Regions from separate parts of the Homo sapiens genome. Here regions 1 and 3 are each linked to region 2. Evidence: fine-mapped expression QTL. A gene starts in region 2. Each other region holds a variant in brackets. All regions are shown on one strand. Distances are between the middles of the regions.

The links. PIP is the estimated chance that this variant, and not a neighbour inherited with it, causes the effect. A credible set is the group of variants that fine-mapping cannot tell apart.
Region 1: its variant is the best candidate, but not a certain one, in a credible set for the expression of ABHD17C in whole blood (TOPMed, PIP 0.53).
Region 3: its variant is the best candidate, but not a certain one, in a credible set for the expression of ABHD17C in monocytes after Pam3CSK4 (Quach 2016, PIP 0.65).

The regions. Positions count from the first base shown.
Region 1 is chr15:80,749,382-80,759,752 of GRCh38, reverse strand. It overlaps ABHD17C (abhydrolase domain containing 17C, depalmitoylase), which reads right to left. Exons shown (of 3, transcript NM_021214.2): 2 at 10,061-10,240; 3 at 4,132-5,602. The coding sequence ends at 5,383. Among named protein-coding and RNA genes, the nearest start is that of CEMIP, 25 kb to the left of the region's middle. RefSeq lists an enhancer at 9,498-10,371. The variant T/C (reference allele first, on the strand shown) is at 5,969.
Region 2 is chr15:80,689,458-80,699,828 of GRCh38, reverse strand. ABHD17C (abhydrolase domain containing 17C, depalmitoylase) reads right to left here and starts at 4,519. Exons shown (of 3, transcript NM_021214.2): 1 at 3,810-4,519. The coding sequence starts at 4,399. RefSeq lists silencers at 3,696-3,755, 4,176-4,225, 4,316-4,735, 4,756-4,865, 4,886-5,045 and 1 more and an enhancer at 3,916-3,985.
Region 3 is chr15:80,641,905-80,652,275 of GRCh38, reverse strand. No RefSeq gene overlaps it. Among named protein-coding and RNA genes, the nearest start is that of ABHD17C, 48 kb to the left of the region's middle. The variant T/G (reference allele first, on the strand shown) is at 4,502.

The sequences.
Region 1 (10,371 bases), 60 kb before region 2:
TTCTCACGTGGAATTCTTTATTCTGGTAAGGTATATACTCCACCTTTTTCATCTTCAATTATTCTGGCTATTTTTGGCCCTTTGTTCTTCCATACAAATTTCAGAATCACACATTTCTAGAGTCAGAATCCAGAAACAAACCTGTTGGGATGTTGATTGAATCATATTAACCCCACAGATCTATTTTGGAAGCACTGATATATTTAAGTAGTGAGACCTCTTATCCATAAACATGGTATATCTCTAATTTAGGTCTTCTTTAATGTCTTTCAAAAATAACTTTTTCTCCTGAATGTGTCTTGTGCATGGTGTGTTAGTCTCAGGTATTTAATGTTTTTTAATACTATTGTAAGTGGCATTTTTCTTTTCTATGGCTTATTAAATATTTTTCCTGATTTATGGAAATAAGGTAGATTTTTGTATATTGATTTTGTGTCTAGCAACCTAAACTCTTATTAAATCTAATAATTTATAGATACTTTCAGGTTTTCTACATAGACAATCATAACCTGAATAGTTTTTTTCATTTATTTTTATAATTTTTATTAAGGTATACTTTACATATAAAATCTATCCATTTTATATGTACATTTGAATGATTTTTGACAAGTTTAGTGAGTTGTGCAACCATCACAATAGTTTGGATTTAGAGCATATTCACTGCCTCTTCTTTTCCATGTCTTATATCTTTTTACCTTTTTGACCCTACTGAACTTGCTAGAATTTTTCGTGTAACTTTGAAGAGAGTGAGGGTAGTGGATATTATCTTTAATTTCCAATCTAAAGTAGCATAAGGCTTCTGATGTTTTGCCTCTTGGTATAATGCTTATTATGTTTTGGGATAATCTCTCTATATAAAAGTTTCCCCCTATTCCTTGTTTAATAAGTGTTTTGGTTTTTTTAACTTAAATGGGACATTGAGTTCCAGAAAATGTTTTCTCTGTGTCTATTGAAATGATCCTACGAATTTGCCCTAAAAGAAGATAGTTTCCAAGTAGATCTCCTGCCTTGGAGGGCGCTCTAGGTTTTGTTCACTGCTCTGAGATTCACCAGACTGGAAAACCAGTGTTCAGATTAAACGAGTCCAGCAAATTCCTTCAAAGAGAAAACTAGTTTCAGTGCTTCTCCTTCCTGTCAGTTCTTATCTTTATTTTGCATTTGGCCTGCACACAGGTCTTATTTTCTTGACAGTTCATGCATCTGTTTAGATTTTTACCATTTCATTCAGTAACTGTTTTCAGTGGAAGGGGTGGTTCACATCCCAGGACCATCACAAAGCAGAAAACAGAAGTCACGAGATCTTCTAGGTTCATTATTGCACTGAGTATGTTTTCTGTGTTACTATTCTAAGTGAGGTACTATTGTAAGTGAGGTCTTTTGGCCATGATATTTCCTAACTAGTTACTACTAGCAAACAGAAAGTAACATTATCTCCTAATGCTGTGTTTGTATAACTCGAATTTGATCATGCTGTTTGTTCTTTTGATAGAGGATTGATTTTGCAGTATTTTGTTTAGCACTTTTGCCTCTGTATGTGAGCTCCACTTTAGTCTCTTGAGTATGAATGGATGTGCGCATGCACGCACCTTTAGAACTGTTAATATACTATGGAATTATTTCTTAATAGTTTGAAGGAATTTATTCTTATAACTGCCTGGGCCTAGTATACTTTTTGGAAGATAATCTGGTGCTTGCTTTCCCCTAGTTCTTCAAATGTTATCATTTTATTCTCTTTTGAGAGCTTCATCTTAAGTAGCTCTGCTGCCAGTAATACAATTTACAGTGCTTTACAAAGCACAAAATGCCGGGCGTGGAGGCTCACACCTGTAATCCCAGCACTTTGAGGCCGAGGTAGGAGGATCGCTTGAGGCCAGGAGTTTGAGACCAGCCTGGGCAACATGGCGAAACCCTGCCTCTACAAGAAAACATAAAAATTAGCCAGGCACGGTGGCTAATTTGGGAGGCTGAGATGGGAGGATTGGGAGGTTGAGGCTGCAGTGAGCCATAATCACATCACTGCATTCCAGCCTGGGCAACAGAGTGAGACTCTGTGTCGAAAATAAAGCAAAAAATGGACAGTATTTGCATAGCCATGATTTCATTTAATGACTATGTGCCCTACGTGTGGTCAACAAGGGGTAAAAAAAGCATCAGAGGCCCAGAGAAATTAGGGAACGAGGTCAAAATCACTCAGCTTGGATACAAAGACAGATTAGATATGGTCCTAATCCTCCCTCTGAAAAGGCTCACCTGAAAAAGACTAGAACAGACAGACCCTCTTCATGTGTTTGCACTTTCAAGTCCTAGTTCTAAGATAGGGCAGTAGCAGGTACCTATAGAAAGGGGAGCACTGAGAGAGGGGGCATTCAGTTTTCAACTGGAACCCAAGGTGATCCCTCACATTAAGAAGGGATCCTTCTTGTTCTGTGCAGGCTAATACACTTGTGATCATTTCCTGAAGTGATCAAGGCCCCGAAGTCTATAGATTCTATATTTCTCCTCCACACACCAAGAGTCACAGAAATGTTCCCAAAAAGAGTATTTTGACAATTCATTTGCCCTTTCAAACCTTTGATTTTCACATTCAAAATTCAGTCTTGAACAAGAGTGCTAACAGGTTTTTTTTTTGTTTTTTAAACTATAGACTCATTCTATTTTGAGACAGTAGCAATCATTCCATTCTTGTTTTCAAAGGATGCTACAATCATTTAAATTAGGATTTGAGATTCTCATGCGATTATAATGAGTGATCCAAATCTGTATTACTCTGCTTAATTTTAGGGATCATAAAGCATAATAATCATCAACAGAATGAATAATAATACGGTCACAATATCTTGCTCTGAATGTTACTTCTAGGCTTTTAATAGTTATAAACGGATTTCCACAAGCGTAAGGCACGAATTCATATATTAGAAACAATACATATACCTTCTCTATACTTTGCAAGGACTTCAGGTAGCCACTTAATTTTTCCTTCTTGACTAGGGAGAAAGAAATAGTAAGGCACTCAGAAAGGAGACGCATCCTCACTTAGTGGAAACCAAACACCTGGAATCCGGCCCCAGGTCTGAATGGAGAACAGCTCTAGAAAAAGCCTGCAGCTCAGGAGGGGTGTCTCTCAGAAACCAATAGAGGATTTCTCCCTGGGGTTCCCACTGTTACCACACATGCAATTCTCAGAGGAATGCCGTTCCCATGCCAAACCCTGGCAAAAGTTGGAGAAACTTCCCTCCTCAGTTTTGGCAAAGCACGAGCTGCTTCCAGTGGATACAAACCATCCACATCAAGTGACAAAACCAATGAAGCAAAAGGCTTTGCCACCTTAGTTTCTGTTATTGTCAATCTTATCATTTCCCGATATTTGGCTGATGAAAAGAAATTTACTAAATAGTTTAGGAGAAAAAAGGGGGGTAAGGATTACAGAAGATGCAAGCAGCACACAAATAGAATCAGAAATCAGGTCTCTGGCAACCCTGACCCGCTGGTCTCTGGCCCCAAAGGCAGGTCATTGCTTGTGCTTTTTCCTACCTAGGTCTCCCAGACTTTTGGGACAGGCATCACCACTGGAGCTTTGCTGATGCCCCCTCGGGTAAGCCAGCCCCACCCACCTGATTCAAGATCAGGAAGTAGCTGGCATATGCATGCATTCACATGTGCATACTCATGTCTTCACACCTTCCTGACCACCACTTCCTCCTAATGCACCCTTAGGAGAGTGCGTTCCAAGAGTTGAAAACTAGCATCCCTCAGCTGCTCTTTTCTGCTCAGCTGGTCAAAGGGCTGAAAACTATGGAACACACCTGTTTCAGGCTTCCCAACAAAAGAGGCACTGTCCTTCCTCTGAGCCAGGTCACAATGAGGTCACCTTCATCAATTTTGTTTCATAGCCAGAATCCACTGCATCCTCTATTTAGATATCATCTGCACTTTACTGCTATATGCTTTATATCTTGGCTTCTTCCAAAAGTAATCCAAGGCCTTTTATAGAACAAAACCATATACCTTGAGAAAGATGGTGCAGTTTGAAAGCCTCAAGGTTTTCTTCCTACATTACGACAAAAAGTTGTTTTCTTATTCACTATTTTCTTTGATGGAGAGATGAAGAAAAAAACTGCACAAGCCCACACATTCTGATCCATGCATCCTTTATTCCATTACCAACCACTGTGCCGCATCCAAGCAACAGTACACAAACTGGCAATCAACCGCAGTCCAGTTGTACAACGATCTGAGGCTTACAGTACATTTAAGGCTTTTAAATGTGGAAAAAAAAATTAAAACCAAAGAACCCCCAAATCCAAACCCCTAACCAACACAAGTAGTATAGCAATGTTAAGCATCTCCTATTTCTGATGCTTATTTGGCGCAACTTCCAGTGTCAAAACCCAAATAATTCCTAAACTAAAAAGATTAGTTTAGTGAAATTTTAATTACATAAATTCTTCAAAGCATAAACTTGGAATTTTTGTCTTGGAAATGTTATAAAATTTTTAATAGCAAAACATAGGAATAAAAACATATTAACAAAATGTATTCAATCATTTACATTACAAACAAGGAATCTGCAGTTCATTGTTGTAGCCTGACAAAAGAAATCATATCTACCATTAAGAATCTATGCACAATGTGATTGCAAATATGTACAGTACTTTAAAAAAGCCTACAAGGAGGACTTTACAGAAGGAAAGTCAGCTAGGCTCTTTGTTAAACCAACCAGACAATCAAAATAGTAAAACTCTGTTGGCTAGTAATAAATTTACACTTAAAAAAACCCCTAGTTTCTTTTTGTTTAAGAATATTCCAGTTATATTTATATGGTTACAGTTGATGAAGCTGTACACGAGAGTTCCAGTAAATTACCCTTCAGTTCATTTGTCCGGGAAAGATCAGCATGTTAACAAAAAATAATAAAGGAATTTTCACCACACTAGCTTTCCAGTTACACTATCACAGCTTCACAAATGGATTGAACCCATGTATCCAGTGGCAGAAAGAGAGCTGCATGTGAAATACCGAGAACATTGGTGGCAACAGGGCAAGTCCTGCATGAATGTCAGAAATGATGGATAAGGTTGAGAAACAGATGCGAGGCTACTTTATACAGCACTAGAAAATTGTCCCTACATTCAGCTCTCATTCCCATTCCTGCAAGGTAATGAAGCTGGGAATCACGACTGTTCAGTTTAACGTGTTGTGTGAATTAGCAGAACCACCTCTAGATACAAAAGACTGAGATTTCATCAGCTCTTTGATTAGAACACCCTAAAGGTTGGGCACTTCTTCATGGTTATCAAGCCTTTACAGCTACCCAGTTAAAGCATGTGCAAAACAGAGGACTCTTCTGTTCACAGTAAATGAGGTAAGATCAAGTTGTTGTCTTCAGGAATTAGGAAGTTCGTGAGATATGAACTGTTTTAGTCTTTCTAGGTATTGTGCATAAAGCTCTATGTCATTATGCCCAGCCCCTTCAACCCAAAGGGGCTCCACGGCTCGGGGACAGCGCTCGTACATCGCTAGGCCATGGGAGAAATCGATGACCTCATCCTCTGTACCATGAATGACCAACACAGGAGAGGTGACTTTAGATATCTTGTCAATGCTGCAAAACAGAAAGGGGGGAGGCAGAAAGAGGACTCCATTAGTTATGCTCACAGATAATACACATCACATTTAATGATAAGTTAATAATCTCCACAGGCAGGGAAATAACACCGTGGGTTTTTTTTGTTTGTTTTGTTTTGTTTTTAAATTAAGGACTTTATCTTTTAAAGCAGTTTTAGGTTCACAGCATAACTGAGAGGAAGGTACAGAGATTTCCCAGATACCTCCTTGTCCCCACACATGCACAGTCTCCCCAATTATCAATATCCCCTACCACAGCAGTACCTTTGATGAACCTACATTAACATATCATAACAGTTTGGCTTTTTCTTGCTTTATTTTTTTCTGGTAATTTAGTTTTTTT[T/C]CTTAAATCAACTTTGCATTTTAGAATAATTTTGAATTTGCAGGAAAGGTGTAAAGATAATACAGTGTATACAAAAATCAGCCAGGCATGGTGGTGCATGCCTGTAATCTCAGCTACTCGGAAGACCGAGGCAGGAGAATTGCTTGAACTAGGAGTGGGAGGTTGCAGTGAGCTGAGATCGTGCCACTGCACTCCAGCCTGGGCAACAGAGTGAGACTCTGTCTCAAGAAAAAAAAGAAAAGAAAAGAAAACAAAACAAAAAGATAATACAGTGCCCTGACATACTCCTGACCCATTTCCTGTAAGGTTAACATTGTACATTACCGTGATACATCTGTCAAAACTAAAACACCAACGTTGGTGCATTACTATGAACTAAACTCCAGACTTTATTTGGATTTCACTAGTTTTTCCACTAATGTCCTTTTCCTGTTCCAGGATCCAAACAAGAATACCACACTGCAATTGGCTGTTGTGTTTGTTGAAGTATTTTATTAAAGACAGACCTCTTCAGAGCATCAGACTAGCAAACTAGCAACTACTATTTTTTATATATTATCTTTATATTACTTTTAGATTTTTTTATATTTATATATTATTTTTCAAGAGAATTTTAAAAAGGGCCAGAACTTAACATATCAAATGAATGTCTATTTGGAAAGCTGGACACTTAATTTGCTGCCACTCAAGTCTTCAGAATTCTGAAAGCTACCATCAGAATTGACTCAAAGATACACACCCCATTTCATAAAAGCAAGTGCCTTGTTTTAAAAAATAAAAACTGTACTATTTAGCTTGAAAACTTAATGTAATGCCTAGATTTTATTCCAAATGACTTCTCTGCAAAAATCAAATCTACTCTCAAAGGATGAATATTTGAGGATCTTTAAAACAATATGCTTCAGGCTCTGAAAGCATATCCAAAAGAGGAATCCAAAAGACTTTAAGCATTGGTTGAGCTGGGTGTGTAGGCGACTTCTCTGATCGGGATAACAGTCATTTCATCCACAAATAAATCAAGAGAAATGGCTCTCTCTCCATTCTGTCCTGCCAAAGAGCCTCTTGTAGTTTACTTCTCTTTCCATATTTGATCCTAGTCGAAGTTACAAAAGGATACCAATTAGTACTATTTGTGGGAATCTTTTTGTTAAAAGTAACAGCTAACATTTTTTAAACATTTACCATAGCCGGGTGCTTTGCACTTAACCCACAAAATCTCTTTTAATATTTAATGAAACACAGTGAGAGAGGAATGACCACCTCTGTTTTATCAAGGAGGAAACTGAAGCTCAGAGAGATTATTAAATAACAGGAATGAGGTCGTGGAGATAATAAAGAGCTCTAACATCAATTACACATTCCAAAGATCTACAAACAACTGTCATCTAGCCTTTATTAAAAACTCAGGAAGCCGCGGACCACTTCAAGACATCCCAGAAAGATTGCAAAACCTCATCAGCCATGTAATTTGCAAACATCAGAGCCACTGTGGCAGTATTCAATTATGCACTTTAGAAATCTTATTTGGAAACCTGCTTTCCCCCTATATTTAATTTTAAAGTGACTTCCTTTAAGAGAGTTCAATTATACACAATTAAAAAGATATTTACTCAACAGTTACAATGGGCCTGGGACTATGCTCCACGCTGCACAGTTTAGGAGAATCTCTACTGCCTGGAGGGTGTATTTAAAGTTGACTTCCATCATCCGATCCCAAGTGTAAAGGAGGTAAAAGAAAATAAACTATAAATGAAATAATAATCTGGATTCCTTTTCCTTTTGTTTAAATTTGTTTTAATATTAAAAGGAAATGTGCAAGTATCCTCCTTTAAGGAGAGGGACACAGATGATTCTGCCATCTGGCAACAACGGACATATTAAGAAAATGTTTACCAAATTCAAATTCATGATGAAAGTCAATGCAACCATTAATGGTTTGAAATCTATCATATTAATAATTTATGGCATTAAATATGAGGATTTGTCTCCTTTGTTGTCTCCAATCACCAGCCTTTTAAAAAATTTTTTTAAGAGACAGGGTCTTGCTCTGTTGCCCAAGCTGGAGTGCAATAGTGTAATCCTAGCTCACTGCCACCTCAAAGAGATAAAGCTGGGCTTAAGGAATCTTCCCACCCCAGCCTCCTGAGGAGCTGGGACTACAGATGTGTACCACTATGGCTGGCTAACTTGTTAATCTTTTTCTGTAGTGACAGGATCTTGCTGTGGTGTTGCCCAGGTTGGTCTTGTACTCCTGGCCTCAAGTGATACTCCAGCCTTGGCCTCAAAAAGTGCTGGCATTACAGGTGTAAGCCACTGTGCCTGTCCTCTAATTACCGACCTTAATTCAATAAATTACTTAACCTCTCATTTCCTCATCTGTAAAATGAGCACAGTAATTGAACAAACATCTTTTTTTTTTCCTTTGGAGACAGAATCTTGCTCTGTCACCTAGGCTGGAGTGAAGTGGTGCGATCTCGGCTCACTGCAACCTCCGCCTCCTGGGTTCAAGCAATTCTTATGCCTCAGCCTCCCCAGTAGCTGGGATTACAGGTGTGCACCACCACGCTCGTCTAATTATTTTTTTTTTTTGTATTTTTAGTAGAGACGGGGTTTCACCATGTTACCCAGGCTGGTTTTGAACTCCTGAATTCTGGCAATCCACCCTCCTTGGCCTCCCAAAGTACTGGGATTACAGGCGTGAGCAATCACGCCCAGCTGACAAACTTCATAAGACTCTTGTAAAGATGAAGGGGGACCATGAACATGAAATGCATAGCCCGATACCTGCCATACCAGATAAACTCAGATAAGATTAGTTGCTAATTTGTTGTTAATCATTTGCAATTTGTTGAGATGGCTGTATTTTAAGGTATATGCTAATTTAAGAGCCAGGAAAAAAAAAAAACTATTAGTTTTGTTGCCAGGGTAACTCCCCGCATTGCTTCCCACAAACATGCTAAGTATCCGTCTTTCAGCAAACTGGCCTCTCATTACCAATTCAGCACAAATAAGGCCACATTTGAGAGGCACATTAGCCCTACTTAGCATTCCCAGCCACGCCACTATAAATCTGCAGTGCAACTTTCCCATGAAGCCGAATCTCATTGAATCCTGGTACAAACTGCACAAAACTGAAGTTCACCCAAGGTGTTAACAGAAGGTTCCTTTCTGTGAAATAAGACAGTCTGTATAATAGATGTTTATGTAACCAAACGATGATCTTTTATTTTTTTTCCAGCAATAGCAGGATGAAAGCAATTAATGGGTCAATCAAAAACCCTAAAACCGTGTCTTCTTTCTGCTGAGGTTTTTTTATAAAATGGCAACATGAGCTGGGCCAGTCCTGGGGTAACAATCCTAGGCCCCTCCAGCAAGGACTGTGGGAAAAGCATAAGGGGCAAAATATTTTGTATTAAAAATACTTTCCTCATGCAGGCACCTCTGCAGGGGTGAGATCTTCCGGTCAAAGTGGTAGAGCAGAATAGGGGGTGGCAGGTGAGTTTGTTCATTTATACCATTCCTGTGGCTATTTACCGAAGATCAAAGCCTGGCTTGTCGAGTAACTCACTTTGCCTTTATTCTTCTATTTACAAAGATTAACTGAGCATGGTACCTTTTCCCTTACCTGTACTGTCCAACTGAAAAAGTAAGAGAAATTTCCAAACTGTGCTTGCTTGAAGTTTTTGAGTGTCTACACCACTAGTTGCCCCATCACACATATTGTATACAGCTCAAGATTTAACAAGAAGTGTCTCTGAATGAATGAGCGAGTGCTGAACTGTAAGTTCCTTTAGGATGTATGGGTGCTGTTAAAAATCCTGTATATTAGAGCTCAATCAATTAACCCTAGGCGTCAGTATACTCAAGGTCCTTATACATCATCTGGGAGATTTTCACAAGTGAGTCAGGCCTGGGAGGATAAAATCTCTGGACAGTGTGTGTCATATTTGCTCCCACATGCCCTGTGGCACCCAGCACAGGGTCTGACGTATGGCTGCATTCAATAAATATTTACACAGATATTTATGGGAGCATCAGATATAAACACAGTCATTGGCTGACTTACCACTTGTTGGACAAGCATGAACTTACCTGGGGAAAGCATCAAAGCAGTATGTTTTCCTGGTATCCGGAAAAGCCACACGCAAACCAGACATCAGAGGGGAATGGAGAATTACCGCTGCGCATTCATACCTCGAGGCCAAGTCTACCGTGGGGACAGTCCCAATGCTCTGACCATAGAGGATAATGTTCTCGGGACTCACGCCATACCTGGAGAAATCAGAGGTTGTATGCCATTAGCTAAGGTATGAAGAAAGAGAGAAAGGGACAGAGAAACCCGCCTCTTAAACCCATAAAATTCCCACATCCACCAGCTTAAAACCATATCATCTAACTTGTAC
Region 2 (10,371 bases):
TCTCCGCTACACTCTTTTCAGTAACTTTTCAAGAGTTTAAAATAATCATCTATTGGCCAAACGGCAACAACCACCTTTCTTACCAAATCTACTTCCTCCTGAAACCCTTACTCTGGATTACGTGCCCACCTTAATACTCATCATCTGGGGGGATTCACTGTCTTTATCCATGCATGAGGGGTCTGCACACTGGTAGTATTTACATCTGTTTCAAGGGCTGGACAGCTCACTCTAGCATGCGCAGGAGCTGGCACAAATAGGTAATGGATAAAAGATGTAGAGACATACAAAGGATGGGTTAGTATTGTTCTTCTCTTCAATACAGACATTTCAGTGTCACAAGAACACCAATACAATGAATACAAAGTGGATGAGGCCTCAAGCCAATACATCTGGCCCTTTTTTTTTTGTCTATGGTTGTACCCATGGATATTAAACCCCGAAGATAAAATAAGATCCAAGTACTTGTAAGAGTCCAACTTAGGAAAAATTAACTTTACCCCACTTATTTATGGGGCGCCCATTATGTGCAATTCGTTCAACAAATACCAATGACTACCTATTATTTTAAGACATTTTGCCAACTGTCAGGAATAGAGAAGACATAGTGTCCCTGCCCTCAGAGATCTTCCAATTTAGTGGAGATACAGTTAAATAACAGATACAGCAACACTGTGATAACTCAAGCAAAGGGGCTGAGTACCAGGTGCACAGGGAACACAAAGGGTCTCCTAATCCAATTAAGATCCAGTCAGGATCCATTGTTCCTAGCACAGGAGAAGGGCAGATACAAAAGACGATGTGAGCAGAAGAGTGGGGCAAAGTCCTGAGTGTGGGGCTTTGGGGCCTGCAGGGCACTGCACCTTACAGTCCTCCTGGGGGAATAATCTAAGTACAGAGATGAAGATGACTCAGAACAAGGCAAGCTCTCCAATCAGTGTCCTGGGGAGTGTGGTTAACTAGGAGGGCAGGAAAGATAAAGATTCCCAAAGAAGACATGGGGGATGGCTGGTGGAAAACAGAGTCTGACCCAGTAACAGAAGAATGGACACATGGGATGGAAGGCATTCCTGCCATGGCACTGACATGAATTAAGCTGTAAAAGAAGAGAGAATAGCATAAGAACTTGCTCCAGGCAAGTAAGAGCAGAAGAACCATACTGAACAGCAAGAGGAAAGTGGTTGAGGGGCTGATTGGCTTCAGAATTAGGTAACTCTTATGTCAGCAGAATAACCAAGACACACAAATGCACCTCCTGAAGAATCTGATAAATATGCTTACCGTGGCAATGGTGCCCTCGCAAGAGTACTAAACTGGTAGTCAAGAGACCTACTGCTGATTTGCCGCCAGTCTATCCTCCTGTCAGATGAGCTGGGTGAACGTGTGCAGTGTCCATACATGAGTTGGGAAATAAATTTAGCAATTCACAACCATCTTTTTTTTTCTTTTTTATAAAAGTGAAATAGGCCAGGCGCGGTGGCTCACGCCTGTAATCCCAGCACTTTGGGAGTCCCAGGTGGGCGGATTATGAGGTCAGGAGGTCGAGACCATCCTGGCTAACACGGTGAAACCCCGTCTCTACTAAAAATACAAAAAATTAGCCGGACGCGGTGGCGGGCGCCTGTAGTCCCAGCTACTCGGGAGGCTGAGGTAGGAGAATGGCGTGAACCCGGGAGGTGGAGCTTACAGTGAGCCAAGATGGCGCCACTGCACTCCAGCCTGGGCGACAGAGCAAGACTCCGTCTCAAAAAAAAAAAAAAAAAAAAAGTGAAATAAAACAACATATTCTGCTATGTGTGCTGCCCATAGAAAAATTACTGTTTTGTGAAGCATTGGCTTCAGGTATGTGGATACAGACGTGTATGTGTGCTTGATCAAAACGTAAAATGTGTTTCTTACTGTGAGGTTACAGTCAAAACAGTTTGAAAAGCACAAGACATGAGGATCTATAAGGTTCCTTCAAATTCTAAGCTTCGCATGCAGCCTTCAAATTCTAACCTTTTTTACAGGTGAATAAATTAACTTAGATATGAGTTCTGGTATAACATTAAATAAATCATGGGCAATCTTTAGACATACCATCAGATAATTCAAAGTTATCCGAAACAATTACCCTTAATTCAACTGATACACTATCAGATAATTCAACATTATCCAAAACAACGCCCCTTAATTCAACTAAATATGACCAAAAAAAAAAAAGTTTCCAGGAAATAACTACACTCCACGTAAGCTGTAACACAGACACACCTGTATATTTGGGGCAAAGGGTGAGCCATGTGAAAGGCTTTCATTGTAATGTGGACATGCACACACAGAAGCAATGTTCTATGGAAACTCTTCAATTAAAAAATCTACTCAAGGTAGGATTTTCATGTTTCAAATTTTAAAGATCTAATGCCAACCTTATTTTTAATACCTTTGCCAACAGCAAATTCTAGCAAGCTATAGACTGTGTGTGACACATACTTTTGAAACCCTTTACTGGAACAGGTGGCTTTTAACTACTTACAGACTCTGACCCAATGCATCTGCATATGATACATTCTCATCTGCCTAAGCCACTTTCGAAAAGCTATAATCCCAATGAGGGCATCCCCTTCAGGACTTCAGGAGGGCATAAACATGCAACATAGAGCAAATATTAAGTACTTCCCTGTTGGACAAGCCATTTTCCCAGACAGGCAAGGAGTCACTTAGGAACATATGCGTGAGTACGAATGAAAAAAAAAAATCATTAACGTTGGTGATGTGCATAAGCAAACAGGTTTTAGATAAAAACTATAGAAGGGTCCATGGCGACAATAATGCCCGGTGTACTTCCTCTGGGGACTCTTTCATCTGAAGAAATCAAATCTCATCATAGACATGGCCTCAGGTTATTTTCACCATCACTGCTATGAGGCAGGTCGGAAAGGTCACAGATACCCAAACTGGAGCACAAACAGGTAACCTGACCTGCACATGTATAAGACTTTTGTCTAATAGTGAATAAAAGTCAGGTTTTTGGTTTGCTTGTTATAAAACAACCAGGTCTAACCCCTAAACCATGCCCCCAGTTTGTGCCTGGCTCACAGATGGCCCACCCTAAACACTTTTCAGTCCTTCTGTGAATGCTAATTTAAGGTCAGAGATTTCCCAGCCCCTGCAAGTTTCAAACTTATCCTGGACTGTTATGGAGGCCGTGTGGAAGGTGCCAGGCCCACAGCTACCAGCTAACTTCCTGCCCCACAGTGCCACTACTTTGCCCCACCAGGAGGCAAACTCCCCGCTCCACCTGACGCTCCAGCTGTTTCCAAGGTTGCCCAGACATTGTCCTGCCCGCACTTTACAACCAGAAAGTCTTTTAGAGGCCATCCTGTCTCGCCCACTGACTTTACAGGGAAGGAAACTGAGTCTAGAAACCCATGTGCCTTGCCCAAGGTCACTTCAGCTCGTACAAACGAAACTCGAACCAAGTTGTTTCTTTCTGCCCGGTACTTAAGCACCCACACTCTGCCACTCGCGGTGACCGGAGCCACAAAAGACCCAGCCGGTGGGCCGGCGACACACAGGCGAGCCAAAGCAGGCAAAATTCTCTGAGTCCGAGCTCTCCAGGAACCTGAAGGCTGGCGCGGTTTTTGGAGAGGGTGGGAGCAAGCCAGGGTGGGACAAGAAAAGCGAATTTACGGCGGCCAAGGGGCTCTCCGCTGGCCCTCAGCCCCGGAGGAGGGGCCCCTCTCCTGGCAGGCCGCCCCAGGGGCCCCAAGAGACCCCCACCCCGCCTCCCCACAGCTGGAAGTCAGGCCTGGCGACCCCGGCAGGCTCACCGGGTGCGCAGCGCCTGCCACGCGGCGTCGATGTCGGCGTAGAGGTTCTTCTCGGAGGGCTTGCCCGAGCTGACGCCGTATCCCGAGTAGTCGTAGGAGAAGATGTTGCAGTTGATGCGGGAGCCGAGGCCAATGTAGAAGCTGCACATCTGGCCCAGGTCCACGGCGTTGCCGTGCGAGAAGAGCAGCGTGTAGCGGCTGGAGGGCGCGCAGCGCACGAACATGCAGCCGAGCCGGTTGTCCCGGGCCGTGCGCGAGAAGAAGACCTCGACGGCGTCCAGCTCGCGCTGCGAGTACTGCCAGTCGGCGCGCTCGCTGAGGTGCAGGCTGCACGCACCGGGCCCCGCGCCCGCGCCCTCCTCGGGCTGCTGCGGTGCCGGCTGGGCCGCGGCGGCGGCGGCGGTAGCCTGGGCCGGGGCCGGGGCGGACGCGCCGGCGCCGCGCTGCTCCGGCGCCAGCACCGTGTAGGTGGGCTCGGGCGGCAGGAAGGCCAGCTTGGCGGCGATGCGGCTCGGGCAGGGCGGGCAGCAGAAGAGCCAGCACAGCTCACCCAGCGAGAAGCCGTTCATCCTGGGGCCTGGCTCGGGCATCGGGACGGCCTGGTGCCCGCCGCCGGCCCGGCTGGCTGGCTGGCTGGCTGGCCCGGGAGGACGGAGGACGGACGCGCGGCGAGGGAGCTGGCAGGCGAGCGCGGAGGGCGGCTGCAGCCCGCCCGCCCGGCGGCAGGAGGAGGCGGAGGCGGAGGAGGGCAGGAGGCGGGGCCGGCCCGGCGGGCGCGGCGCTCGGAGCCCGGGCGGGTCAGCGGCGGCCCCGGAACCCAGGCGAGGCGCGGGCGGCCCGGGCCCGCGCGCGGCACACAAAGCCGGCGGCGGCGTCCATGGCCGGCTCGTGCGCGCCGCCCCCCGCTCCCGTTCCCGCTCCCGCACGCCCGCCGCCGCCGCCGCCGCCGCCGCCACTTCCGGGTTACCGCGCGGCGGCGCCGCCGCTGGGACGCGGCGCAGAGCCGGGCATCGGGGCGGGGCGCTGCGGGCAAGGGCGCGGGCACCTTCCCCGGCCTGGGAAGCACCTTCTCGACCTGCGGCCGACGGGGGCTTCCAGGCGGCTCCGGGGCCCGGAGAAGCTGGGTGCCGGGGCTGGGGGCTCTGCGCCCGGACAGCTGGGCCGATCTGCAGAGGGGACCCTGGAGGGGGTGCATGTGTCCCGGGGTGGACCGCTCCCCTCCCCTCCCCCTGGGATTCCCTCCCCCAAATCCAGGTTTCTCCCGTGGATGGAGGTTCTTGGGAGTCTACTGAAAAGGAAACTAAGGGGTGGACAAGAGTTGGAATGTGCCCGAAATATTTGGCTCTCGTGTGTGCTGCTTTCTGAACTGGCTCAGTACCAAAAGTTCTCAGCACCGTAAGGGGTACCGGGGTTGTGGGATAGGGTGGTCATCAGTGTGTTTCTTATTAGGAGAGGCTGTTTCTGTATAGGTAGCAACAGCGTTTCCTTTCTAAGGGCATGGTTTTACCCTTAGTACATTTCTGTATCTATAAAAGTCAGCTGTTAGAACAGGAGGGTACTGTATTTAGCAACAAACCATGTTGAGGTTGTCATTTCTAATCCCACGTGTGGCAGATTTTCCGGTAGTAAGTATATACTAGGTATCGTTTACAGTGTTTGTGTCTCTAGAGTTGTTTTGGGTCCAGGATTTTTCAGTGGTCTTAGTCATGAACGATTCTTATACTGCTTTAAATCTACTGTAATCTTGGCAGCCACCTTTACATGATTTTTCAAATATAACTCTCGGTGCCTTGAAACTGTGCTCTGGTGCCAGTTTCCACAGAGCCTTCTATACTTCCTTTTTCCCGCCTGATTTGGCAGCTGAAGAATTCCCTTTCAGGAACTGACAGGAGATACCCTTCCTGGACTGCCAGCAGGGCAGCTAGAGACTGGGAGGTTGGCACAATCCCTACGCTGGGTCTGTTGTTTTAACTCACAGATGTCCTGAGAATTTTACCTTTCGTTGTGACTTTCCACAGGACGAATATTTTGAGCACCGTCATCTAAATGAATTGCCGATACTGATTTCATTAACCTTCAGGACCTCGCTTTTAATTTTTTCTTTTTTAAGAGACAGGGTCTTACTGTATTGTCCAGGCTGGACTCCCAACTCCTGGGCTCAAATGACCCTCCGGCCTGCCTCCCAAGTAGCTAGGACTACCGGCACATGCCACCTTGCCCAGCTAGGACCTGGGTTTTAAAAGGCCATTTCTTCACTAAAACAATTTTACTTGTTTTTGAACTATTCAAACTTGATTTTTAAAAACCTGGTAACAAAGCCTGTCCAGATTGCATATTTGAAGTCTGTTTTGAAGGTTTTCACACTTGGTGAAACTCTTCACATAAAGCCCAATTCTAGCTTTGCAGGTTTGCATTTCCTTTTTTTTTTTTTTTTTTTTAAAAAAAGAATTTTTCTGCGAAAATCCTTTAAAAAGAAAAAAAAGCTTTATACAGCTGGGCACAGTGACTCACGCCTGTAATCCCACCACTTTGGGAGGCTGAGGAGGGTGGATCACTTCAAGTCAGAAGTTCAAGACCAGCCTGGCCAACATAATGAAACTCCGTCTCTACTGAAAATACAAAAATTAGCCGGCCATGGTGGCGTGCACCTACAATCCCGGCTACTCAGGAGGCTGAGGCACGAGAATCACTTGAAGCTAGGAGGCAGAGGTTACGGTGAGCCGAGATCATGCCACTGCACTCCAGCCTGGGTGACAGAGTGAGACTATGTCTCAAAAAAATAAAAAGGCTTTCTAACTTGCTACACATTGGTATACTTTGGTCACTTTATTGTATTCAGCATTTATGTATGTAATGTTTTTTGTGCTCACAGCATCCACTGTGTTAGGTGCTACAGCTACCAAGGTGAGTAAGATAGTCCCTGCTCTCAGATACCTTACAGTCTAATTAGGGCATCAGCAGAAGATTCAAAACAGTTTTTATGTGCCTTTAAAAAAAATCAAGTCCTCATAAAAGCTAAGAAGATGGTCTTGCGTCCTGATTCAGTGGTGATATTTCTATGGGGAGCTAAGGTTATAGTCGAGTGCATTAGTCCCTAATCTAATTCAGAACAAGAATCAAACTTTGGGAACTGAGATGAAAGGGTATCTAACAGCCCCCTAGTCAGTCTTTCTCAGATACCACTCCTCTCACCTGTCCTTTATAAGAATTGAATAGCCCTTAGTTCATGAAAGGGGGGAATGATGAGAGTCTCAAGTACTCGTCTTCTGTGCTGCTGATGGAAAAGACAGTCTTTATATTTCAGATGGCCTGGCAGCAGTGTTAGCATTGTTAGAAAAATCTAAAAGCTAGATACTTGTTTATTTATACCTGGTCTCATTCCACAAGGGATTTGTGGAGTGTGATTCAGTATAATATAAATACATAAGCAAATAAATAAAAGCCTGGCTTTTGTTTTCATTCTATTACAAGGCTACACAGAGGTGGGCTGAAAGAGCATTTATTCCCCAGGAAAACATGTTGGTTCAGGTTTGTGTAAATATTCAGTTGAGACCCTAAAATTATATGCCGTAGAGTGAAGCTACCAAGCCTTTCTTATCTCATGCCACATATAGCCAGTGGTAGAGTTTCTGTAGCCCACTGACATGAGACGTGCTGCCCAGGGGATAAGAGGTTAAAGATCTCAGCACGTCTCTAACATCTAACATCTTTAACAACAAATGTGTTAGTGTGCCTTGTCATGTTGGTTTGGAAACTTTAACATACAGCACATAAAGAATGCATTTGCCCTATAAAATGTGAAAATTGGGGATTACCAGCTGTCCACTTTGACCTTAAAGCAGCAGTCTCCAACCATTGTGGCACCAGGGACTGGTTTCATGGAAGGCAATTTTTTTCCATGAAAATCCTAGTTAGATTCTCATAAGGAGTGCGCAATCTAGATCCCTCGTATGCACTGTTCACAATAGGGTTTGCACTCCTATGAGAAGCGAATGCTGCCGCTGATTTGACAGGAGGCGGAACTCAGGCAGTAATGCTCACCCACCAGCTACCCACGTCCTGCTATGTGGCCCAGTTCCTAACAGGCCACTGACCAGTACAGGTCCACGGCCCGGGGTTTGGGGACCTCTGCCTTAAATTTCTATGTCATTCTGATCATCCTAGTAGAGAAAGATCTAACTTTGAGTTCAGGTCAGCAAACATATTTACTCTGCTAGGTACTTATCATGAGTCAGTCACTGAGTTGACTTGGGAATGTAAAGGTGGCTAATGCACAGCTCCTCCTGCCCTCAACAAGTGCATTGTATGATCTGTCTCTTAGGTAACTCTGTATCCTGCCAAGCCAGCCAGTATTGATGAACTAAACAATATTCCACATAACTAAATACCCTGATCTCTATTACTTAATATTGGCCCTTTACACACTGAATTTTGGCTTCCACACTAGTCAGCTGGATGTGGAGTTGCTCAAGACCACTTTTATTTGTAAAAGTAGAACCAACTTTTGACCATAAGAGGATACTCATGCTTAAAAACAGAATCTGGTTGTCTTGATGGAATCTAAGGTAATGTTGCCCCATTGTACATTTTTTTAAAAATTTGGGACTGGATACTCAGTGAAATCAGGGATCATGTGTATTTTGTTCATCGTTTCCCCTATGACTGGCATAGAGAAGATGCTCAGTAAATGTTAATTAAATTGCTAAATTAAAGAATGAGAGGCCAGGTGCAGGGGTTCCCACCTGTAATCCCAGCACTTCGGGAGGCTGAGGCAAGCAGATTGCTCGAGTTCAGGAGTTTGAGACCAGCCTGGGCAACGTGGCAAAACCCCATCTCTATAAAAAATACAAAAAGAAATTAGCCAGGTGTGGTGGTGCACTCCTGTAGTCTTAGCTACTCCAGAGGCTGAGATGGGAGGATCACTTGAGCCCAGGAGGTCGAGGCTGTAAAGAGGTGTCATCATGCCACTGTACTTCAGCCTTGGTGATAGATCAAGACCCTGTCTCAAAAATAATAATAAAATAAAAGAATGAATGAGTGATTTAGTGAATGCTTCCAAAATACCAAGCCTGTTCCTTCTGGTTTGGGCAGTATTATTGGAGTTATGGGCTTTGAAGAAGATACAAAGTGGTCCAGAGCCAAGGCCAGCATCACACTGTGTCCTCTGGCTAAGGAATTGTGACATTCTCTCCATATTTATTACCAATAGAGCTCAAATTTTGTTATGGTAACAATGTACCCAGTTAAGATAGTCACTCAACCTCCCCTGCCATCAGGATGGCCACATGACAGGATTCTGTCCAATAGGCCCTAACTGGAGAATACTGGGGGATCTTCTGGAGAGACTTTTAACAGAGCCAGGCTCAGCTGTAATGTTTCCCTTCACTTTTTTTTTGTTGTTGTTCCTGCCTGGGTTGCAGGCATTGTTTTTTGAGCAACAGCAGCCATCTTGCAAGCATGAGGGTAAATTTCACAGCTGAAGATGGTGGTGCAGAAAGATAGTCTATTTCCTTCATGGTTTAATAGCTGCCCCGATCTCGCCTGTATTTGTCGAGGCTTCTTATGTGAAAAAACTAAGTCTTTTTATGTCATTGTAGTTGGTTTATTTGTTACCTGTAACCTAATGCAGCATTAACTGATTCAGGAATCAGAAGCAAAGATCTTACATTGTTCTTAACTGCTTTCTGAATAAGGACAATGAGTACTTTGTTGATCGGTAGTGGAACAGTGTGCCTAAATCCTGCTTGCCCCTCTGTAGAAAAATATTTAAGTATGACTGACTAAAGATGGGAAAACGTTTTAAGGAGATAACCAGTAAAGTAACAAATCTGAAATGTGAAAACATGAAAAGGTTATAATTTTTAAAATAAATGATACTTTGAGGCTATTCCAGAAGTTCTATGCTGACATTAATTAGGATAAGAGGCCTGCCATTCAACTAAACACTTTTGGAGGCAAAATATCTTTTCCCAGAATCTTTTTCAGTCTGAAGGCCCTTATCCAAAGGGTTGTAAATGAGATGACTGGAACCCAGCCGGGGAGAGCTCTGAGATCCACAAACCGCTGAGAAAGCACTGCAGAGATAAAGATTGAAAGAAATAAAACACCACCCACCCACAGAAATGTGTTTTCACAGTTCCTATAACCACGGTCATTCCATGGATGATAATGCCCTCAAACCTGCATTTCTGACTCATCTCATCCAATCTCCTATTCATAGATTCTTAACAGGGGGTCCAGAGTCCCTGAACTTGATGACAGAATTTCGAGTTGGTACAGTACTTCATAGGATCGGTGTCCACCTGTTTTTCCCTGTGTAATCGGCACCAAACATCATATCCTAGTACATAATGGGAACATAAAACACCTTTGTCACTTGATTGGAATTAAATTTCTGGTGATTTCCAAACACTTAAAAATATGCAAAGATGTAATAGACTGGATTTAAGTAATAAGTAAATTTAAACTTAATAAGTAATTTTTTAAATGGAAAGTGGGAAGGAGCAGCCTCTTATATGCTGAGTTTGCAAATCTAATTTTAAGATGATGATGAACAATATCA
Region 3 (10,371 bases), 48 kb after region 2:
AAAAAAGAATGAAATAGGTAAAAAGAATAAACATTTCAATAGAAAACTAAAATATATTCTTCAAAAACCAAGTAGACACTTTAGAAATAGAAAGCAATATCTGAAATTAGAAATTTATTAGAATGACTTATCAGCAGATGGGACATAGCAGGAAATAAGATTAGTATACTTGGAGACAAGTCAAGAAAATTACTAGAACTGAAGTACAGAGAGGGGAATATAGTGAAAAAGTTTCTCTTGTCACTCTGTTTCCCAAATAGTACCAGTCTATTAATTAAAATCTCCAGTCTCATTAATAATTAGAATTTTGCACTTCATTCAAAGTTGAATGTTTTTACTTCCCTAGCTTTGACCTATGTAGGCCTGTAGTCAAAAGAAAATTCTTTCTTTTTCTTCACCTAGTTCTTCTCATGCACCCTACTAACCAGTTTCTGACTCTCCAAAGTTAGAACAGGGCAGAATGTGGAGGAGAAAGTGGACAGAAATTTCTTTCTTTCTTTTTTAGGCAGGGTCTTGCTCTGTGCCCAGGCTGGAGTGCAGTGGTACAATTGTAGCTCACTACAGTCTCAATCTCCTGACGTCAAGACATCCTCCCACTTCAGCCTCCCGAGTAGCTGGGACTACAGGTGTGCACCATGGTGCAGGGCCAGGAACTTTTAAAGTTGACTACTATAGTGAGTTGGCTTGTGTTTCCTGGACTTGGCAGTGTTGAAAGTTAACTCTTTCTCTCCCATGGGACTTTAAAAGGTTCTTCGAAAACTCCTCCACTTCCTGTTTTGGGGCTGATACCTTTTCCTCTGGCTGGCTGCTTACAGCGCCTTCCTTAGCCCCTGAGAATCTTGTGGTCCAGCCCCACAGCTTCCAAGAAGGTCCTGAACTGGTTTGTTCTTCCTCCCTCCACTAGAAATACGCACCTATTCTTTGTCTCATCAAAATCTGGGAGGGCAGTCAAATCCCAAAGTCTGTTCCCAGAGCAACAAGACACTCTTTCCTGAACTAGATATCTCAGGTGCAAATCAGTCACCAGTCTGTTTGTTTCTGAAAGTTCAGGAGACACATGCTGTGATTTCCAGTGGTCTGATTGGAGCCCATATTCTTAGGCTTGAGGTGAGGAGCTTAAGAAAACTGGAGGCTCTCCAACCAATGCCATCTCTCCAAATGTTCCGTAGGCTTGAGGTAGGTGGTTGGCTGAGGGTCACAAAATCTTTTGCAAATCCAGGCAGAGGTCTTGCATCTCACTTTGGCTTGTTTGGGGACTGTGTAACAAAGGGTTAACTCACAGGCTTATGATGTTCAACCCCTGCATGTTCCAAAGAAAGGACCAGCTTTTGTATACCTGAAGTCTTGGACGACATCAGATGACCTAATGTTAGTAATGTGATTTATGATGCAGGTCTTAGACCGCACTGTGTTTGACCTCAGGGGAGGCCAGAGACTGAATAACAAAACCCTGGACACCAAAACTCTGATGAGCTTCTGTGGTTGGCCGTACTTTGTGTGTACCACCACCACACGTTGTCCCTGGGAGAATTAAGTACTCTCTGTACAACTCCTCTAGGAGAGGACAGTGGGAAGCTCATACCCGGTCTGTCCTGGACTCTGCCTAAGGCACCGTTTTCCTTTGCCTTTTCCTTCTTTCCTTTCTTTCTCTCTCTCTTTTTTTTCTTTCTCTCTTTTTTTTTTTTTTTTTTTTTTTTTGAGACAGAGTCTCACCCTGTCACCCAGGCTGGAGTGCAATGGCACGATCTCAGCTCACTACAACCTCTGCCTCCCAGGTGCAAGCGATTCTCCTGCCTCAGCCTCCTGAGTAGCTGGGATCACAGGTGCCCGCCAGCATGCCTGGCTAATTCTTTTGTATTTTAGTAGAGATGGGGTTTCACCATGTTGGCCAGGCTGGTCTTGAACTCCTGACCTCATGATCTGCCCGTCTTGGCCTCCCAAAGTGCTGGGATTACAGGCATGAGCCACTGAGCCTGGCCTCCTTTGCCATTTTCATCTGTATTCTTTCACTCTAATAAACTGAGCCTGTAAGTATCACAGCTTTTCTGAGTTCTACAAGTTTCTACCAAATCATTGAACTTGAGAGTAGTCTTGGGAATCCTCCACGCTGGAGCCAAAACAGAAACAAAAATAATGATTTTTGTAGCATACTGCTGCAATATTATTTTTAAAAACTCAAACCTTCAGAAAATTACAGAAGTTAATATAACACCAATGTATCCATTGCCTACAATTAATAAATACATTTTATCATATTTGTTTCAGTTCCTCCTTTATTTTCTTTTTTTGGTTAAGAAATAAAACACTGGGAGGCAGAGGTGGGAGGATCACTTGAGCCTAGGACTTTGAGACCAGCCTAGGCAACATAGTGAGACCTCATCTCTACAAAAAAATAAAAAAAAATTTGTGGGGTGTGGTTGTGCCTGCCAGTAATTCCAGCAGCTAGACAGGAGGCTGAGGTGGGAGAATTGCTTGAGCCCGGGAGGTCAAAGCTGCAGTGAGCCATGATGGCGCCACTGCCCTCCAGCCTGGGTGACAGAGCGATATCCTGTCTCAAAAAAAAAAAAAAAAAAAAAAAAAGAAAGAAAAGAAGAAAAGAGAAGAAATAAAACATAGTACATAATAGACACATATCAAGTTTCCTTTGAACCCCACCCAGTGCTGGTCCCTGTGGCAGTCACTCCTCTGAGATTGGTCAATATTCTTCCTTTTGGGGTTTTGATACTATTTTCCTGTGTGTGTGTGTGTGTGTTTTTTTTTTTTTTTTTTTTTTTTTTTTTGAGATGGAGTCTCATTCTCTTGCCTAGGCTGGAGTGTGGTGGCATGATCTCGGCTCACTGCAGCCTCCACCTCCTGGGTTCAAGTGATTCTCCTGCCTCAGCCTCCTGAGTAGCTAGAATTACAGGTGTGCACAAACATGCCCAGCTAATTTTTGTATTTTTAGTAGAGATCGGGGGGTTTCACCATATTGGCCAGGCTGGTCCCCAACTCCTGACCTCAAGTGATCCGTCTGCCTTGGCTTCCCAAAGTGCTGGGATTACAGGCGTGAGCCACTGTGCCCAGCATTCCTGTGTGTGTTTATATCCCTTTATGGATTTGCATGTATCCTAGCACTGGGACCTTGCCATCTTCTCTGCATCGCTCCAGTTTTGACAAACACATTGGTGAAGTGTGCATACTTGACTCGATTTCAACCCAACAAATGTGGATTGGGCAGTCTTTGCTAGGTGCCAGGCTTTGTGCCAAGTATTGTGGGCAAGTAGTGTAAGTTCACTACTCTCATGGACCCCTGACCTGGTGACTATGATAGTGGCTTGCTGAACTCAGTACATATGTTCTGAATGGCCTTTCTAAATTCTCACTATTCCCTCAGCACTTGAGGATTCTTCCCTAAGTCAGACCTAGACATGATGAGGGAGAATATCAGGAAGAGACCAAGGCCACAGTCAGGCCAAGTATTTTTCGGGGCTTCTGGTTCCTCTCTTCAGAGTACTGACCCAGTATCCTGGGCTGGTTTAGACTCTCTGAGGGTTGTGAGCTTTGCAGCTCATCAATAAGAGGGAGAATAATGCTCCCCTTCTAGACTCAGTCAGGCGGGTTTATTAAGTTACTTGTTTCCTGCATATCATGCTCAGCAATCAAGCCCTACTCTGTATCATAGCTTGATCAGCCCTCACTATATCTATACAGAGAGAGGTAGTATAGATGGGACCCACTCTATTGGCCATTGACTTACCTTGATGAATGATCTGTCTTTCTAGACAACGGTTTCTAAACCCTGAAGATAAAGTGGCTTTTTTTTTTTTACAGGTTTTATTTACTTTATTCAGAAACTAATCAGATTGTGTTTTGTTAAGTGGAGTTTTTTGTTGTTGTTGTTGTTTTTTGTTTTTTGTTTTTTTTTTTTTTAGTATTTATTGATCATTCTTGGGTGTTTCTCGTAGAGGGGGATTTGGCAGGGTCATAGGACAATAGTGGAGGGAAGGTAAGCAGATAAACATGTGAACAAAGGTCTCTGGCTTTCCTAGGCAGAGGGCCCTGCCGCCTTCCGCAGTGTTTGTGTCCCTGGGTACTTGAGATTAGGGAGTGGTGATGACCCTTAACGAGCATGCTGCCTTCAAGCATCTGTTTAACAAAGCACATCTTGCACCGCCCTTAATCCATTTAACCCTGAGTGGACACAGCACATGTTTCAGAGAGCACGGGGTTGGGGGTAAGGTTATAGATTAACAGCATCCCAAGGCAGAAGAATTTTTCTTAGTACAGAACAAAATGGAGTCTCCTATGCCTACTTCTTTCCACACAGACACAGTAACAATCCGATCTCTCTTTCTTTTCCCCACACTTCCCCCCTTTCTATTCGACAAAACCGCCATCGTCATCATGGCCCGCTCTTAATGAGCTGTTGGGTACACCTCCCAGACGGGGTGGCGGCCGGGCAGAGGGGCTCCTCACTTCCCAGACGGGGCGGCCCGGCAGAGGCGCCCCTCACCTCCCGGAC[T/G]GGGCGCCTGGCCGGGCGGAGTCTGCCACCCACCTCCAGGATGGGGCGGCTGGCCGGGCGGGGGCTGCCCCCCACCTCCTGGATGGGGTGGCTGCCGGGCGGAGATGTTCCTCCCCTCCCAGACAGGGCAGCTGCCGGGCGGAGGGGCTCCTCACTTCCCAGACGGGGCGGCCGGTCAGAGACACTCCTCACCTCCCAGACGGGGTGGCGGCGGGGCAGAGGCGCTCCCCACATCCCAGACGATGGGCGGCCGGGCAGAGACGCTCCTCACTTCCTAGACGGGATGACGGCCTGGAAGAGGTGCTCCTCACTTCCCAGACTGGGCGGCCGGGAGGAGGGGCTCCTCACATCCCAGATGATGGGCGGCCGGGCAGAGATGCTCCTCACTTCTTAGACGGGGTGGCGGCCGGGTAGAGGCTGCAATCTCGGCACTTTGGGAGGCCAAGGCAGGCGGCTGGGAGGTGGAGGTTGTAGCGAGCCGAGATCACGCCACTGCACTCCAGCCTGGGCAACATTGAGCACTGAGTGAGCGAGATTCTGTGTGCAATCCCGGCACCTCGGGAGGCCGAGGCTGGCCGATAAAGTGGCTTTAAAGGGCTAGGTGACCTTTCAAGTTCCTTAAAGCCCAACTGTAGACCTTTAAAATTCTGAGAACCTCAAGACAACAACGACAACAATAAATTCCATGTACCTCTACAGTCAGGGAAAGATGGAGATACTACTCACACAGAATATTCTGTTTCAGGATTGAAGTTCTTCTCTGGATTCCTAGGAATGTTGTTTTCACAATGTGAGGGAAAAACTGCATGGATGCAAGAGTATTCCAGAATGATTATCTCGGTGTGACTGTGAGCAAATTCAGTTCCGTTTTCAACTAACTTTCATTTGGTGACCACTTAGCGCCTCCTGCGTTCCTGGCGGTTTGCTGGTAGAATGGAAAATCAGAAAGGTATCAGGTTCAAAGGGAGGCACAGGTGGAGTGAGCAGGAGCCCACAGGTAGAAATGTCTTCCAGGTTGGAAGGATCAAAGAAGTCTTCATGGAGAACGTGGCATAGTGAATTGAATCCTTTCCTACAGAGATATTTGTTTTGTTTTTACTTAATATGGATTTATTGAGAAATTATGTCATGCCACACACTATGCAATGCAATGGCCCTGGATATAAGAATGAATAAGATACAAAGTCAGGTCTTTGCCTTCAAGGAGATCCCACACAAGCACCATCATGATAGCATGTGACAGAGGGGAATGGAGGGTGCTATAACTAGACGAGAGGCTTGTGAAGGTCTCCAGGAGAAAGGTGCAGGGCTGAACTGGTACCAAATAGATTTATAGGCATGATCAAGGCAGATAATAAGTGGGAAGGCTTTTTTCTTCTTCTTCTTTTTTGCAATGGTGATGGCATGGCAAAGACATAGTAGGGGAGACAGCCCAGAGCACCTGGACAGTGGTAAGTGATCCAGTACCTCTGAAGCAGAATGCATGAGGATGGAAAGCGACTGCATGAACAGGGCCCTGTTTGTAAAGAGCCGAGTGATCAATGAATGCAGATGGACATAAATTCATGTTCAGGTGTAGTGGACCAAATGGCACAGAGTATTAACATAAATAAAATAAAAAATGGGTAAAAATGGCAGCCAATACCCCAGAAACTCATAAGGTGTAAACATTGGGAGCCATGTATTTCTAGCATGACAACCGTTCCTAACATGTGATTCTTAACAGCTCATCTTTTGAAAAAAGAGAAAGGAAATGCGATTTATCATCTATTAAACAATTGGATTTTCCATGTTCCCCTAAAGTGGAGTTTACTTCTCTCCCAGAAAACCACAATCCACAGAGGAGGAGAATAAATGAGACATAAATATAAATATATCCCCCTGAAGGGCAGTCAGTAGACAAAAGGCTACTTTAGGAGATGTGCCAGTTGATGTCACAGTGAAGTCAGATAAAATTACTCATCACTATTCTGTTAACCGAAAAAAAAAATAAATGAGAGGAAACCCAGAGAAGGTCGTGAAAACTGTGTCAATTACAAATTACTCCAGGCAAAGCCACCACAGCAGACACCTTCTGCTTAAGCTATAGTGAGTAAACAGAGGAAATGTTCTTCGGGAAGCTGTTCTTTCTTTGCTCATCCTCTGAGCTCCCTCTGGGTGATGGTGCTTTCTGACCACATCCTCAGCCCAGCCCAGAATTATAGAGCAGAACAACATCTTGGGGGTGCAGCTCACCTCCCAACCAATGCCTTCTCCAGAGGCTGCCACCTTGCCAACTTGTGTTCTTTGGGTTTTTTTTTCCACTCTGTCACCCAGGCTAGAGTACAGTGGTGCAATGTGGGCTCACTGCAACCTCCGCCTCCAAGGTTCAAGCGATTCTCCTGCCTCAGCCTCCCGAGTAGCTGGGATTACAGGCACGCACCACCAGGCCCAGCTAATTTTAGTATTTTTCGTAGAGATGGGGTTTCACCATGTTGGTCAGGCTGGTCTCGAACTCCTGGCCTCAAATGAACCACCCACCTTGGCCTCTCAAAGTGCTGGGATTATAGGCATGAGCCACCATGCCTGGTCTCCCAGCCTCTGTTCTGAATCGAATTTGAGCGCCTTGAGTTCTGCGCCTCATCCCCCACAGCCCTTGCAAGAATAATTATTTTCTATAGGCCTCTGTTTATTGCACATTCTCCTCCGCAGGCCCCTGCAGTTCTTGTAGCCTTTCCCTTTCAGAGCCTGCCTGAGTGGGCATCCTGCCCTCGGGAGGCCTCTCTTATCACCCAGTAAGCTCACCCCAAAGGCCACTCATGTCCCTTGTCACACTCCTCTGAACTCACTCCAGTTTTTCTATGGTTAAAAAAGGGCATGAACCTCCTCATAGGGTCGTGGTGAGGACACTTGATGGAAAGCATTGGCACAGAGTTTGGCACACAGAAAGTATTTAGGCAGGAAGTGGTTCCTCACGCCTGTAATCCCAGCACTTTGGGAGGCTGAGGCAGAAGGATCGCTTGTGCTCAGGAGTTCAAGACCAGCCTTGGCAATGTAGTGAGACCACCCTCTCTATAAAAAAATAAAAAATTAGCCAGGCTTGGTGATGCACTTGGGAGGCTGAGGCGGGAGGATTGCTCGAGCCCAGGAGTTGAAGCCTGCAGTGAGCCATGGTTGTGTACTGCACTCCAGCCCAAAAGACCTGTCTTTTATGAGACCCTGTCTTAAAAAAAGAAAAGAAAAGAGAGAAAGTGCTTAGTATTATTATTTTCATATTCTTAGTCCTTTGCCATAGTTAGCACAGGACCAAACCCCTAAGACACCTGCTCTTCTCTGAGGCAATGCAGGTGATTGAGCGCCTGCACGCTCAAGCACAGGCGGCAGTGAGATGGTGTTCCTGCCCTCCAGGAGTCCATGGTCTATAGAAGGCAAAAGATGAATGGGATAAAGATCTGAAGAGAGTTCAAAGAAAGGGTGGGTGGTAGAAACTCGGGGGAAGGAAGACAGCCCTCACTCCTGGCCCAACCCCACTGCTGGTGCAGCTCTCTCGGAGCCTTGCACCCTCACGGGAACCCGGAGGCTGCCTGCCGGTCCCTGAGCAGCCTTAATGTGCAGGGACTGATGGGCCGTGTTCTCAGGAGCATCTTAACTGGGCTAAACTCACATGCTTCAGGTTTGGTTTTAGTCACAGCGTGATGGAGGATTTCCCAGTGCTGGGTCTTATGGTCTCCTGGACAGAGAGGCCGGAGGCATCACCTCCCTGAACAAAAGCATCTGCCCAGATGCAGTGCAGACTCATCACTCTTTCAAATACTTTCCATGAAACAATGCTGATCCCTTCATTCCTGATCTCAGCTTGCTGAGTCCTTTGTGGTACCTCAGTGGACACACTTAGAGGAGGAAGAGGAGATGGGAGAGGTGAGGCATATGTGGCCATAGCCACAGACTCAGTATTACTGGCACTTGTGTAACTGCAAGCAGATGATGTTCGGCTTACATCAGGATGACTGGTGGCTCACAGGGCTTTCCTGGGAGTGAAAACCCTCTGTTTCCTGCGCACACGGTGAGGGTGGTATAAATGTAGAAAGAGTCAGCACATGACCAAATTAAAAAATTGTAAAAGGATAATGTCAGGAAATGGTGGTGATGGTTGCACAACATTGCGAATGTACTTCATGCCACTGAAATAGACACTTCAAAATAAAGTGGTCAATTTAACGTTATGCATATTTCACCACAATTAAAAAGAAAAAGATGATCTCTGGTGACCATGAGTCAGCCTCCGGGCAGTATCCAGCCCCTTCCCAGTGAAGATGCTGCTCATGAAGTGAGGCAACTTCTGCTTCTGGGGCCAGCCGGCTCTGGTCCTCACCACCTGTGTCACCTGGGCAAACTTCTTAACTGCTTGGAGTCCCTGTTTCTGTATGTGTAAAAGTGAAGGGATGTTGGGTGACAAGATGAGATCATTTAAAATTCTTACAGTACCTGGCCAGGAGCGGTGGCTTATGCCTGGAATCTCAGCAGTTTGGGAGGCTGAAGTGGGCAGATCACTTGAGGCCAGGGCTTCAAGACCAGCCTGGCCAACATGGTGAAATCCCATCACTACTAAAAATATAAAAATTAACCAGCCATGGTGGCACATGCCTGTAGTCCCAGCTACTCGGGAGGCTGAAGCAGGAGAATTACTGGAACCCAGGAGGCAGAGGTTGCAGTGAGCTGAGATCGCACCATTGAACTCCAGACTGGCAACAAGAGTGAAACTACATCTCAAAAAATAAAAATTAAAAATAAAATAAAATAAAATTCTCACAGTACCTGGATGCCCAGCTATCCCAATTTGCCTGGAATGGAAAGATTCCTGGGATATGAGGCCATCAGTGCTAAACCCATACTAATCCAGACAAACTGGGACAGCTGGTCACCTTAGCAGTGCCTGATGTAGTAGATGATCAATAATGGCAGTTACTGGTACATATGACTGCCATTTCTACTACCATAAAGAGAAGCTAACATCCGGGGGCTTACAATTTGCCTGACCCTATTCCACGTATTTTGCTTAAATTAGCTCATTTAATCTTCATAAGAAGTATGACACAGGTAATTATTATCTCAGTTTTGCAGAGGAGGAAACCAAGCAGGCAGGATCTGAATGCAGGCAGTGTGATTCTACGTGACAAAATCTTAATCAATATGCTATACCCTCTTCCTCTAAATTTATTAAGTACTATGTTCCAAGCACTGTTCTAAGTGCCTGAACTATGTTATTTCATTTCCTTCTTTTTTTTTTTTTTTTTTTTTTTTTGAGACGGAGTCTCGCTCTGTTGCCCAGGCTGGAGTGCTGGAGTGCAGTGGAGAGATTTCGGCTGACTGCAAGCTCCGCCTCCCGGGTTCACGCCATTCTCCTGCCTCAGCCTCCCGAGCAGCTGGGACTACAGGCGCCCGCCATCATGCCCTGCTAATTTTTTTGTATTTTTAGTAGAGACGGGGTTTCACTGTGTTAGCCATGTTGGTCTCGATTTCCTGACCTCATGATCCGCCTGCCTCGGCCTCCCAAAGTGCTAGGATTACAGGCGTGAGCCACCGCGCCTGGCCTATTTCATGTATTTCTTATAATGACTCTTATGACTATTACAGATGAAGAAGAAAGGAAGGCTTATTTGGGAGCGTGGAATGGAATTCATCAAGAACTAACTGCACAATTGCTGTGCCTATTATATAAAAATAGGGTGACCAACTTATCCTGGGTTTTCAGGAGGGCTCCCTGAAAGCCCTATGCCCAGGGAACCCACCTCAGTCCTGAGCAAACCAGGGCTGTTACTCACCCTATGTACACCGTAGCAGGTCCAGGGAAACTAAAGAACCCAAACAGATCATTCCAACAAGAGGAGCTA